Homo sapiens: one gene and its partner. The protein of the gene in region 1 interacts with the protein of each later gene in a biochemical or structural test. Each region holds a gene or a part of one and is shown in the gene's direction. Other genes may lie near its edges. The genes, in order: CAMK1 and GCM1.

Region 1 (7,965 bases):
GAAAGGCTGCAAATGACCTTCTATTTTGTACTTTTTTGTATCACTAGTGAGATACAAAATGTCCTGTGTTTACTGTGTTTTATCTGTATCCTTTGACCATTTATTAGGTTCTTACTGTTTGTTATCAATCCTGTGTGCTGTTTATATAATAAATATATTAAGCCATTGTCTACAAAACATTTCCCCAGTCTGAAGTTTGCCTTTCATTTTTGGCTACCATTTCGGAGTAGAGTAGGGTTTTCACTTTTTGAAAAAAAGTTAAAAAAAAGTAACAAAAGTTAAAGTTTTGTTTTTTTTTTTTTTTTTTTTGAGACAGAGTCTGGCTCTGTCATTCTGGCTGGAGTGCAATGGTGCAATCTCAGCTCAATGCAGTCTCCGCCTACCAGGTTCAAGTGATTCTCCTGCATCAGCCTCCCGAGTAGCTGGGACTACAGGCATGCGCCACCACACCTGGCTAATTTTTGTATTTTTAGTAGAGATGGGGTTTCACTATGTTGCCCAGGCTGGTCTTGAACTCCTGACCTCAGGTGATCCTTCTGCCTTGGCCTCCCAAAGTGCTGGGATTCAGGAGTGAGTCACCACGCCCAGCCAAAGAATTTTAAAAAATAAACCTGTCCATCTTTTCCTTGTTATTTCTTCCATTTTCTCTAATCTTAGTTAACTACTCACTCTTTCAATAGCTTCTTTTCTGTCAGGTTCAAGAATTCATGGAGGCCAGCCATACTGGCTCACGCCTATAATCCCGGCACTCTGGGAGACCCAAGCAGGAGGATCACTTGATTCCAGAGTTCCAGAGAAGTCTGGGCAACAGAGGGAGTAGAGACCCGATATCTACAAAAAATAAAAAACTAAAAAAAATTAGCCAGGTATGGTGGTACACACCTGCAGCCCCAGCTACTCCGGAGGCTGAGGTGGGATGATCACTCCAGCCTGGGAAGTCAAGGCTGCAGTGAGCCATGATGGCGCCGCTGCACCACAGCCTGGGTGACAGAGTGAGGCCCTGTCTCAAAAAAATAATAAATAAATAAATAAATAAAAGAATTGATGGAGATGTCTGCACTGTTTAGCCATTCAAAAAAAAAAAAAAGAAGAAAAGATCATCCCCCTTTTCCCTGAGAACATTTGACTTTCCTTGACTCACCTTTTTTTAAATTATTATTCATTTATTTATTTTTGAGACGGAGTCTCGCTCTGTCGCCCAGGCTGGAGTGCAGTGGCGCGTGGTCTCTGCTCACTGCAAGCTCTGCCTCCCGGGTCCACGCCATTCTCCTGCCTCAGCCTCCTGATTAGCTGGGACTACAGGCGCCCGCCACCACGCCTGGCTAATTTTTTGTATCTTTAGTAGAAATACAAAAGATAACAGGGTTTCACCATGTTAGCCAGGATGGTCTCGATCTCCTGACCTCATGATCCACCCGCCTCAGCCTCCCAAGGTGCTGGAATTATAGGCGTTAGCCACCGCACCCAGCCACTTTTTTTTTTTTTTTTTGAGATGTAGTCTTGCCGTGTCACCCAGGCTGGAGTACAATGGTGCAATCTCAGCTCACTGCAACTTCCATCTCCTGGGTTCAAGCAATTCTCCTGCCTCAGCGTCCCAAGTGGCTGGGGATACAGGTGCATGCCACCACACCCAGCTAATTTTTGTATTTTTAGTAGAGACAGGGTTTCACCACGTTGGCCAGGCTGGTCTTAAACTCCTGACCTCAGATGATCTGCCCACCTTGGCCTCCCCACGCCTGGCCCTTCACTCACTTTTTGATTAGTACTTTGAAATGTGCTCATCGGGACTGGGGGCTGCAGAAGGATGTATATGTATACGCATCCAAAAAATCTGGAAGAATTGTACTAAAAATGTGAACACTGGTTGTCTCTGGTTGGTGGGGGCCCGGCTGAGAGTGTTGTGTTATTCTTGCCTCCCTCGCACCCCTAATTCCTTTGGACAAGATACCTCTTCCATTCCTTATGGCTGCCCATTACAGTACACTTGCTCAATATAGCACCCTAATTCTCCTGGCAACAGTTTTGGAGGCCAAGGGGTGAACATGTCACTCTATCACTCAAGCAGAGCCAGAGTCCTTCCCTGAGAATGAGATAGGAAATTGGGAGGATGCTTTCCTTCCACTGTGTTTAATTGGAAAGCTGGGGCTGCCTCACTCCATGTTTCCTGCCAACTAGAAGTTCACTCTGGAGAGAAAAAGAGGCCAACGTGTGAAGAAAAATCAAGACAAGGAGAGAGGAGGGAAGACAGAGAAAGCAAATCCTATGAGTACTACATCTCCAGTTCCAGTCTCCAAGCCCCTAATCTCTGGTGTTTTTCCTGCAATCTTGTGCCAGCTATTGTGAACTATAGATTCCTCTTGGATGAAGCTGGTTTAGGTTGGCATTCTGTCACTTGGGAAGCGAAAGAATCTCATCAGTTAGTCTGTGTGTGTTTTCAATACATTATGGAATTTTCCTGCAATGACCATGTATCACTTGTTCAATAGAAATACTAAGAAAGTAAAGATAATGTGTTTGTTAAAGAAAAGAAAACACGAGGCCTCTCAGAAATGCTCAAAAGCAGGAAAAATGTAAAGCACACCATAGAAGCTGTACAAGTCAGCTGGGCGCGGTAGCTCATGCCTGTAATTCCAGCACTTTGGGAGGCTGAGGCAGGTGGATCACCTGAGGTCAGGAGTTCGAGACCAGCCTGACCAACATGGTGAAACCCCCATCTCTACTAAAAATACAAAAATTAGTTGGGCGTGTTGGTTCACGCCTGTAGTCCCAGATACTTGGGAGGCTGAGGCAGGAGAATTGCTTGAACCCAGGAGGCGGAGGTTGCAGTGAGGCGAGATGGCACCATTGCACTCCAGCCTGGGCAACAGAGGGAGACTGTCTCAAAAAAAAAAAAAAAAAAAAAAAAAAGAAGTTGTACAAGTCCTCGAAAGGACAGAGGTCATCTTATCACCCAGGGGGTGTTGTCATCAAGATGAACAGGAATTTGTGGTAAAAGAACCCCTAGCTCAGTGGGTGTGCTTGGTGGGTATAGGGGAGAGTGGGGGCTCAGCCCTGAGCAGGAAATGTATTTTTCCATGAACTAAGGAGTCTGAGATACTGAGATTTGGAAGATGGATCCCTTAACCCCTCATCCCTGGCCAAATCAAGTCCTCTCTCTGAGTCTCAGTTTACACTGAGTCTAGCTCTCATGTTTTGAATAGTGTTCTAGGCACTTCATATCATTATATCATAGAATTCTCAGAACTCTGAGTCAATCTTCAATATTCCCATGTTCCCGAGTAAGAAACTGAGGTTCGGAGAGGTAAAGCATGACCAGGATCAGTTAGACTCCAAAGCCTTTCCAGGAACCTCAGCTATCTTCCTCTCTCATCTGTAAGATGGGCATAATAAATTGGCCAGGTGCAGTGGCTCATGCCTGTAATTCCAGAACCTTGGGAAGCTGATTGGGGAGGATTGCTTGAGCCCAGGAGTTTGAGACCAGCCTGGGCAATATAGTGAGATCCCCATCTCTACAAAAAATAAAAAAGCCAGGTGTGGTGGCACGCACCTGTAGTCCCATCTACATGGGAGGCTGAGGTAGGAAGATGACTTGAGCCCAGGAGTTTGAGGCTGCAGTGGGCCGTGATCATGCCATTGCACTCCAGCCTGGGTGACAGAGCAAGACCCTGTCTTAAAAAAAAAAGAAAAAGAAAAAAAGAAGAAGAGAAAGAAAGAAAAAAGAAAGAAAGAAAGAGAAAAAGGAAATGAGCTGGGCATAAGCACTGTTCTCTCCCCATCACCAGCTGGAACATGCAAGAATTCAGGAGTAGGGAGTGGCACTTGGAGGCCCTTGGAGGTGGAGTGGGGTCCCAAGCAACGTGCCTCCTCCGGCTGCCCCCAGTTCAGCCCCATCCCCAATTCCTGCGAGTTGCTCCCCCCGCCCCCTCTTTCCACTCGGCACCAAATTTCTTCCCAAGGAAGGCCTTGAGCAAACCGACCTTTGGCCTCTTGCCTGCCGTCCTAGTTGCAGGCTCTCTCCCCTAACCTGGACCCCAGCCATCAAACTCTGGAGCCCCGCCAGTCACGTGACACCTCGGTCCTTTTTGGCCTGTTTCCTTCAGGATCCCGATTTAACTTCCTCCTCCCCAATTCCCTCTGCCCCCAATACCTCTAGGCACCACCACCCGCTCTGAGGAGCAAGTGTCTGGGGCTGAAGCCTCAGCTCCATCTTGCAGAGGAACCGGGGCCTCAGTCTTCCCACCTGTCAAGTGGGGCCCACACCCTGCGACCACCTCCACTCTCTTCATTGCCTAGTCTTGCCCGGTCCTTCCCCACTCCCTCACTCCCCCATCCCCCACCAGACTCCCGTGCAGTTCCAGGGCCTGTTTCCCTTCAGGGCACGGAGAAGGGAGACAGAGCCCTAAGGGAGGTCGCAGAACTGGTCTGAAAGAAAATCCACCAGGCCACAGGGTGAGTTTGGCCGGCCTCTAGCTTCAGACAGACGGGGTTCGAATCCTGCTTTGCTTCCGACCACCCGCTGATTTGAAAATCATCTCTCCGGGCCTCAGTTGTCCCCTCTGTGAAATGGACCCCGCTTAAGACCAAGGGCGGGAAGCGTCCAGCAGGAGATCTCTGACCAGAAGCAGGGAGATGGCCTCCACCCGTGCCCCTTCCCCAGCCTTGGAGCGGTGCCTCGCCTCCCAATCCCGGGTCCCTCCGCCGCAGGCTCCACCTCCACTGACATCAGAGCCGCAGGCGGGCGGAGAGAGCCGCCGAGCCGAGCCGAGCCCCAGCTCCAGCAAGAGCGCGGGCGGGTGGCCCAGGCACGCAGCGGTGAGGACCGCGGCCACAGCTCGGCGCCAACCACCGCGGGCCTCCCAGCCAGCCCCGCGGCGGGGCAGCCGCAGGTACAGCCGGGCCCCCCATCCCTGCACCCCTGGGCGCTGCGTGGGGGCGGTGGGAGCCCCTAGCCTCTGGGTATCCTTTCCCAAGGAGTGGCCACTGGGCACTCTCCCGGGCGGGCTGGACCCTGAGGGGCAGGGCTGGGCCTTTCTCCACCTCTGTCCCAGGCCCAGCAGGTGCCAGGCGGGCCTATGGGACACTGAGTGGGTAATAGAGAAGGGGGCCTGTGTGAGCGCCTTCAGCTGGGCCTGACTGGAAGGGCGTGGGCATTTGGAGGTATCCATGGGGTGGGGGGGCTTGCGGAGTGTACTGTCTTAGGACAGGCGTGTGGGTCAGACATGGGTGGAGGATCTGGGAATCTGTGTGTTTTTTGTTCCAGAGGGGTGTCCACGTGTTTTGTGTGCTGGTATTTGGCTCTCAGGGTCTTAAGTCAGAGTTAGGAGGGGGTGTACAATTGTGTACTGAGGATGTTTGGAGTTAGGTGTGTAAGGACTTGGGGTTTGGTTTGGAATACAGGAGCTTCCAGGGGATGGGGTAGAGGAGCTGGAGGGTGTAGGGTACGTCTGGTATATGAGGGTGTGTGTGTGTGTGTCTGGGTGTCATCTTGTGTGGGTGCGGGTGGATGTGTGTTTTGGGGTGTAAGAGGGAGCTGGGTGAGGGATGTTTGGATGGACAGGCAGGTGTTCGGGTGCAGGGCTGTCTGGGGCACTGTGTGGTGTGGACATGTGTGCTGATGTCTGGGAGTACATGTATGATCAGGTGTCACGGGATGTGGATACAAGGCGTACTGGATCTGGGAGGCAGGTGTTTGAGTTCAGGGCTGTGGAGGGGGCTTGGTGTGGCATGTCTGCTACAGGGATGTGTGTGGATCTGTGAGGGTTGTATTTGGTAGGCCTCCATGTGGGTTTCAGACTCTGCCTCTAGAGCTTACACTCGAGTCTCCTTTCCTAGAAGATTCTGCCCCTGGATGGGTGGGCAGGGTCCCCTGGGAAAAAGGTCCTGTTCCAGGAGTGGAATCTCACACCAGAGGCCCTAGTCAGGGCACCTTCTCCTCATTCTCCCTTAGAGAAAAAGAGAGAAGGAAAGTGCTCTCCCTGAGGTCACAAAGCATGCTGGGCTCTGTTTTGGCCTCATCTGTGGATGGGTTGGGAGGCTGTGTTCTCTGAATGGGGCCCATTCTGGCTTCATATTGGAAGTACCAGCCAAGGCCATTCGATGGCCTTTGCCCTCAGCAAGCTTAGCTGGGGGCCCCAGGCCAGGTGTCATTAGGGCCTCTGGAGCCAGCCTCTACCTAACTCCAACCTCAGTCTCCCCATTCTTCATCTGATAAATGGGAGAGAACTCCCACCCTCTCCTGCTGGATGAGACAGACCTCAGCAGAGGAAGGGCCAGGCTGGATAGGGTTAGATGGGGCCAGGAAGGGACAGAGTGAGCAGGACCATTTCTCATGCTCCCGGGACCCAGATGGGGAGTCAGGAGGGAGAGGTCTGGGGAGCTCCAGCTGTGGCTGTTGTTGCTGTGGTAACAGTGCAGAAAGAGCTATTTAAAAATGTGGCTGAGATGTTGCTGGAAGCCCAGGCTGCTGGAAACCTGATTTCGGAGAGGCCGGGGAGTCGGGGGAAGGAGGAGGGAAAGGAGACACCCCAGCAATCCCCAGGGTGGGGCGGGGACATCACTGGTTCTGGGGACAGGGGGATCCTCCAGGCTTCTACCAGCTGCTCTGGGGGTTTATCTGTTGTACTGCCAGAAGTCAGGGTTTCCCTAGGTGCTTGGATTTGGATAGGGGGAAAACTGGGAAGAGAACTAGAATAAATGAATGAATGAATGCATGACTTTGTTAAATAAAGAATTTTGCTGCCACTGTGAAAGGTTTTTCTCTAGGCATGAGAATTTGCTGAATGTTGAATAAACAAATGAATGTTTGTTGAATGATTTTGTCAAATGGATGAATCAAGGATGAATAAATGCAGGTTGAATGACTGAATGGGGCCTGCAGTAAATTCCCAGACAGAGGGCTGGGCTCTGCTGAGTCTCCTCCTTCCATTCTCCTTACAGGAGCCCTGGCTGTGGTCGGGGGGCAGTGGGCCATGCTGGGGGCAGTGGAAGGCCCCAGGTGGAAGCAGGCGGAGGACATTAGAGACATCTACGACTTCCGAGATGTTCTGGGCACGTGAGTCCAGGGCAGGATTGGGTGCTGGATGGCTGAGGGAGGCTGAGTCCAGGGTGGGGCTTCCTCTGGTCAATTAATGCTTCCTGTTTCCCACAGCCCAGGCCCTGTGGCAGCACTATCTAGGGCCTAAACTGTCCCCAGCTTTTCACTTCTGGATGACAGTGGGTGGGACACGGGCTGCTCTCCCAATAGCCCTGGGTTCTTGAAGAGAAAGAAGTCGAGAGAATGAAGGTGCCAGTCAGTCCATTTAACTTGCTGCCAAGAGCTAAGTGTTCTAGCCTAGGTTTGGGAACTGAGGCTGGAGATGGCTCTGTTCTTGGTGCTGGGAATGCAGAAATAACTCAAACCTGGTCTCTGCCCTTCAAGTTGATCCCAGACATGTGCAAGAGACAGACCTACAGAAAATGACAACAGGGTGTGTGCTGTGCTCCAATTAAGGTTGGGATTGAGGGCTTTGTGGAGCCCAGAGAGAGCTGTGCCTTCTGCCTGGGGGAAAACTTCCTGGAGAATGGGGCATTAGAGCTGGGGACTGAAGGATGGGTAGGTGTGCACTTGTCAGAGAGGAAGAAGGACATTCCAGGCAGAAGGAATAGCATAAACAAAGGCTTAGAGGCATGGTTCTATGTGGAGAGAGGTAGAGTGTGATGGAGCTTAAAATCACAGGCTGGGGGGAGAGTGGAAAAAGGGGCTGGAGATGAAAGTGGGACAGTTTGTGTAGGGTTTTGGAAGCCAGGCCAGGGAGGCTGGATATTGTCCCATAGGCCACCGGGAGACACTTAAGACTTTTTGGCAGGTGTGCAATTCAGGATAGTCACTCTGGCCACAGCTTGGAGGGTAAATTGGAGAGGGACAAGACTGGAAACCAGTGATGAGGTTACTACAGTAACTAATTATCCCTGAGGATTGAAATTTCA
Region 2 (5,658 bases), on another chromosome or scaffold:
CCTGTGAATGAGATCCTGCACCATCCCCGAGGGCTCACACTCTAAGAGAGCAAGTATCTGTCCCCTGCACTTCTAATAGATGTTTGAAGTGCTGGGGAGCTCTAGAAGGGGAGCTGCCTGTCTCTGCTTCTACTTCTCAGGAGAAGTGGCAGCTAATCTAGTCACACTGAGGTTAGCACAGTGCTTCTAAGCATGCCGCATGCTGCATGCTGCTGGTAGCCTTCAGCAAATCTGAGTTTGAACACCAGCTCTGACTTTTTACTCGGTCTTTAAACCTGAGCAGGTGATTTTCCTCTTCCACGTCCCAGTTTTCTGTAGAATGTGTAAGAGTACTAATGGGGCAGTGGCACCAACAGTGGTGAAGAATGGACCCTGACTCAGACTGCCTGGGTTTGAATTAGTGGGATGCTGGTAAACCAGCTCTCCAAAAAGAAAATGTCCTGATTTGTAGCATTTGCCAACTTCTGTAATGGAAATATTCTCACCGTGGCTGATTTCAAGCCAGCAGTCATTTTTAACAATCAGCCTACAAAATTCCTGAATGTTTAACTATTGACTCTCAGCTTTGGCCAGCTCCAGGTAGGGGAATCCTAGGTCCCTCACTTCTAGAGGAGGTTACCCAGCTGGCGTAATCACTCCATGCCTCAGTTTCCTGTTCTGTAAACTGGGGGTGATAATAATGGTGTGTACCTCAATGGTTGTGCTGAAGATGAAATGAGATATAAGGCACACAGGGTGTTTATTTGTGTCTGGCACATACCACAGGAAGCATTTAGTAAGTGTTACTTAGCACTGTGATTATGGCTTTGCTGGGTGGGTGAGAGGCAGGCAGGCAGGAGCATGGTGGGCTTGGGAGCGCCTTCAGAGGTTCATCCAGTCTGGTTACCATAGGCAACTGCAACACCACCCCCGGGGCAGGACACACAGTAAATAAAAACTGATACACCATGAAACACAGTCTAGTTAGTGTTATATCATTTCCTTTCTACTTCCTTGTCTCATTTAAGTCAAAGGGAGAGCATGATCATCCAAAACCAGAAACCAAGTTAGAAGCTGAGGCAAGAAGAGCCATGAAGAAAGTGAACACAGCACCTTCCTCCGTCTCATTGAGCCTGAAGGGGAGCACAGAGACCAGGGTAATCCTTCATTATGTATGTTCAATACATGCAGTAGCTTGCCACGCCTGTGCTGGGGGCGGTAGATTTCCTGGGTCCCTTGCTGACGCAGGAAAGCCAGAAATCATGGATTATCAGGCTCATCTACAAACAAGCATCTGCTAAAGAAATTAAATCTGAGGCTTTACTCTTACTTTCTACCATCTTTGTAGCATGCTGGGAACCATAAAGTCCATGTAATTGGAGAATCATCTTCCCTACTACAATTACAAAGAGAAACTTGAATTAGCACTTAACTTATATTTGGCAAGAACCAAAAACAATTGAAACAATCTCCACAAAATAGTAGCCTTATGCATTTCACCGCCTGCCCCCTCCCCGCCCTCCTGAATTTCCATACGTCCCCAAACAGATTGTTTTCTTAGCACACTCTACCAAGATGAAATAAGCAAGCAGTTTCCGAAAATGATAGCTGTCCCAGGGTGGCAATAGTGGAGTGGAGGCTACTCCCTATAGACAAACTGTGATGTGAAGTCCACTGCTTTATGGGCAGCAGATCATAGGTTTTTTTGCATTTGTCTGTTTAATATTGATAGTAGTTCCTATACTTTTTCTACTGTTCAAAGGTGCACATTTCTTTTTGGGAGAACAGAGATGGAACTGGTCCATCCCTAGAGGCTGTAAATGTACTTTATTTAAAAAAATTGTAATGTGGATCTGTTGTAGGGAAATGCAAGCCCCCCAAACCCAAATGGCTATTTCCTCATCCTTTCTCCCAGCCATGGGACAAGTCAAGTGGCATTTCAGTCTCTCATCCAATCTACCTGGTCACAGCCCTTTTTCTCTACCCCCTAAAAGTATCCCCTTAACAGCTAGTAGTTTTACCTAAACAAGAGCATAACTTAATTCTCAACCAGATCCTTTTTTTAACGATTAACTAAAGAACAATATACCTCCTCCATTTAGAAAAATAAATGAATGTACCACTCGTGTTCTAGAGGTCTGATTTATGGTTCAACAAAATTCCCACGAATTCAAAGAAAAATCTCTTGAGGAAAGGAAAAACTAAAAAACAATAGCAACCATGGTCTCTCACACTCCAACCAGCACTAAGAAATAGAATAGTCAAGGGAGGAAATGTTGAGAGACAGAGACCCTGGGAGTTGTGCTGAGTATAATATAAATCTTTGAAGTTATACTTTGATATTTTGTAAATAGTTCCTTATAAGTTTCTCAAAAAGGCAATTAGAGGCCAGGCACTGTGGCTTATGCCTCTAATCCCAGCACTTTGGGAGGCCAAGGCAGGTGGGTCACTTGAGGTCAGGAGTTCGAGACCAGCCTGGCCAACATGGCAAAACCCCATCTCTACTGAAAATACAAAAATTAGCTGGGCGTGGTGGCAGGCGCCTGTAATCCCAGCTATTGAGAGGCTGAGACATGAGAATTGCTTGAACCCGGGAGGCAGAGGTTGCAGTGAGCCAAGATCGTGCCACTGCGCTCCAGCCTGGCTGGGCAACAGAGCGAGACTCCATCTCAAAAAAAAAAAAAAAAGAATAAATAAAAAGCAATTAGGATATCAGATTTGTGTTTGAGTGTGAAACATCTTAAACACACTCATGTCTCTACTGAATGTAGGGAAATTTGGCTCTTACTGGTTAGCAAGCTTTAACATGGAAACAGAGGCAGCCTTTGCTTTTTTCAAGTGTTTCGTGGTTGTGGTCAAGCCGCTGCATGTGTTTGTGCGTCAAGTATTAATGTGTAAGGAATGAGGAAAATCTGATGGAGCTCTTATTTGTACAGAGTAACTCATGGGTGCCTATGGCAGTGGTTTTGATTTGCTTAACTTATTAACACGAGCATTTCACTTTCCTTTCCAGTCTCTTCCAGGTGAAACACAAAGTCAGGGGAGTTTACCTTTAACTTGGTCTTTCCAGGAAGGCGTCCAATTGCCTGGTAGTTACAGTGGACATTTAATAGCTAACACTCCTCAGCAGAACTCACTAAATGATTGCTTTTCCTTCTCCAAGAGTTATGGTCTGGGAGGAATCACAGATCTGACTGACCAGACTTCCACTGTGGACCCCATGAAGCTCTATGAAAAGCGCAAATTGTCCAGTAGCAGAACCTACAGTAGTGGAGACCTGCTTCCTCCTTCTGCCTCCGGAGTCTACTCTGATCATGGCGATCTACAAGCGTGGAGTAAAAATGCTGCTTTGGGGAGAAATCATCTTGCTGACAACTGTTATTCCAATTATCCTTTTCCTCTGACCAGCTGGCCTTGCAGCTTCTCTCCTTCCCAAAACTCTTCAGAACCCTTTTACCAGCAGCTTCCATTGGAGCCACCTGCAGCCAAAACTGGCTGTCCCCCATTATGGCCAAATCCAGCGGGTAATCTTTATGAAGAGAAAGTACATGTGGATTTTAACAGCTACGTCCAGTCTCCTGCATACCATTCACCTCAAGAAGACCCCTTTCTCTTCACCTACGCCTCTCATCCTCATCAGCAATATTCACTGCCAAGCAAGAGCAGCAAATGGGATTTTGAGGAAGAAATGACATACTTGGGTTTGGATCACTGCAACAATGATATGCTTCTGAACCTGTGTCCTTTGAGATGACCCAAATCTTTCACTATGTGCACCCCAGCCCCTCAAAAATGGGGAAGGGCTGAAAGAATTTCCTTAGGAAATAATTTTTAAAACATAACCACAGATAAATGAGAATCATGATAAGCAGTAGACAAGGCTTTTTTCTTTTTCTTTTTTCCTTCTTTTTTTTTTTTTTTTTTTTTTTTTGAGACAGAGTCTTGCTCTTTTGCCCAGGCAGGAATGCAGTGGCGCCATCTCGGCTCACTGCAACCTCTGCCTCCCGGGTTTGAGTGATTCTCCTGCGTCAGCCTCCCGAGTAGCTGGGATTACAGGCACCTGCCACTGCGCCTGGCTAATTTTTCTATTTTTAGTAGAGACAGGGTTTTGCCATGTTGGTCAGGCTGCTCTCAAACTCCTGATCTCAAGTGATCTGCCCACCTCACCATCCCAAAGTGCTGGGATTACAGGCGTGAGCCATTGTGCCCGGCTGACAAGGCTTTTTTCTTCACATGAGTAATTTTTTTGGCTTCTTCTCCTCCACTCTAGTATTTCCACCCTCAGTAAGGAATGGAAACCTGTCCCGTCTGGGGTGTGAAGTGCCCTCTGCTTTTTCCCCCACATTGTTTGGGGTTCCCAGCACCTCAGCCACATTGCATGCTGGGTTTTCATTGTCATTGTTGCAAATGAAATGGAGTAGACATGTGAAATGCTAACCTATCTAGGACCTGATCTATGCCTTCTTGGGAACTGAGAATGAAGAAACAGAAATAGATGGTGGAAGAACTGCCTAAGGTGTGAAAAGCTGAAGATTCTACCACTGAAGTACTGAATATGTTGTCTAGTTGTGAGACTAGTGTGTAAAATATATGTTTTCTAGATGATTTCTGAGACTTGTGATGACAAGGAACCTGACCTAACCCCATTTTTCATAAAGACAAAGAACAGCAATGTTAAATTGCCATATGAAGAGAAACACTAGTGATGTGCGTGGTCTCCTTGCCTCTTGTTTCCTTCCCTCTTCCTCACTGACTTCCCCTTGCACAGGGGCTTCTGTTTTATCCCATTTATTATTTGTGGCACCTATATCAATGTGGGGTTTGTAATAGGTGAGAAATATTTGCTTGGAGAAGCTCTTGTGCAATTAGCCTGGCAATGATTGGCCGGCCATGTTTGAATGCCAGTTTCTCTTCTTTGCTGAAGTACTTTATGATAAAAGTAAGCCTAGACATAAAATCTGGAGAGAACCATGCAATAAACAAGTATTTTTGAAATAAATTATTCCTTCTCCTTTATTAGAATAGTAACAGATGCACATGATACAAAATTCAAAAGTGAAAAAAAAGAAGTCTCCTAGTTCTAGTCTCCCCTCTGCAACACTGACTAGTTTCTTGTCTATTATTCCAGATATTAGAAATGTTCTCTGCATATATATAATTATATGTAATGTGTATGAAATACATTACATAAAATACACACATATCTTTTATATATAAAATATATTTATATATATATATAAGAGAGAGATGACATAAGTGGTATCATATCAGATTCATTTCTAACATAGTTTTTGTCGTTTTAGGAGCCAATTTGAGCATTAAGTTCTTATAAGCATATAGGATCACAGCTGCTTCATTTTTAATGATGCATTATGCATTACATGACTATTATAATTAAATAGTCCCTATTGATAAACATTTAGATTTGTTCAAATCTTCTAAATTCATTTGTCTAAGTGACAAGACTATATATAAAACTTATATATTGGCCAGGCATGGTGGCTCACACGTGTAACCCCAGCACTTTTGGAGGCAAAGGCGGGTGGATCACTTGAGCCCAGGAGTTCAAGACCAGCCTGGGCAACATAGCGGGACCCCGTCTCTACCAAAAATTAAAAATTAGCTGGATGTCATCATGCATACCTGTAGTCTCAGCTACTTGGACCTGTAGTCTCAGCT

What was found.
Region 2: of the proteins of CAMK1 (region 1) and GCM1, one has a biochemical effect on the other in vitro, tested with the Homo sapiens proteins (one study listed by BioGRID).

What each region holds. Positions count from the first base shown.
Region 1 is NC_000003.12:9,766,753-9,774,717, reverse strand, and holds the start of CAMK1 (calcium/calmodulin-dependent protein kinase type 1), read left to right. Parts: upstream 1-4,770; 5' UTR 4,771-4,886; intron 4,887-6,936; 5' UTR 6,937-6,968; coding exon 6,969-7,051; intron 7,052-7,965. UniProt on the Homo sapiens protein: Calcium/calmodulin-dependent protein kinase that operates in the calcium-triggered CaMKK-CaMK1 signaling cascade and, upon calcium influx, regulates transcription activators activity, cell cycle, hormone production, cell differentiation, actin filament organization and neurite outgrowth.
Region 2 is NC_000006.12:53,126,281-53,131,938, reverse strand, and holds the end of GCM1 (chorion-specific transcription factor GCMa), read left to right. Parts: intron 1-1,007; coding exon 1,008-1,136; intron 1,137-2,992; coding exon 2,993-3,733; 3' UTR 3,734-4,978; downstream 4,979-5,658. UniProt on the Homo sapiens protein: Transcription factor involved in the control of expression of placental growth factor (PGF) and other placenta-specific genes. Binds to the trophoblast-specific element 2 (TSE2) of the aromatase gene enhancer. Binds to the SYDE1 promoter.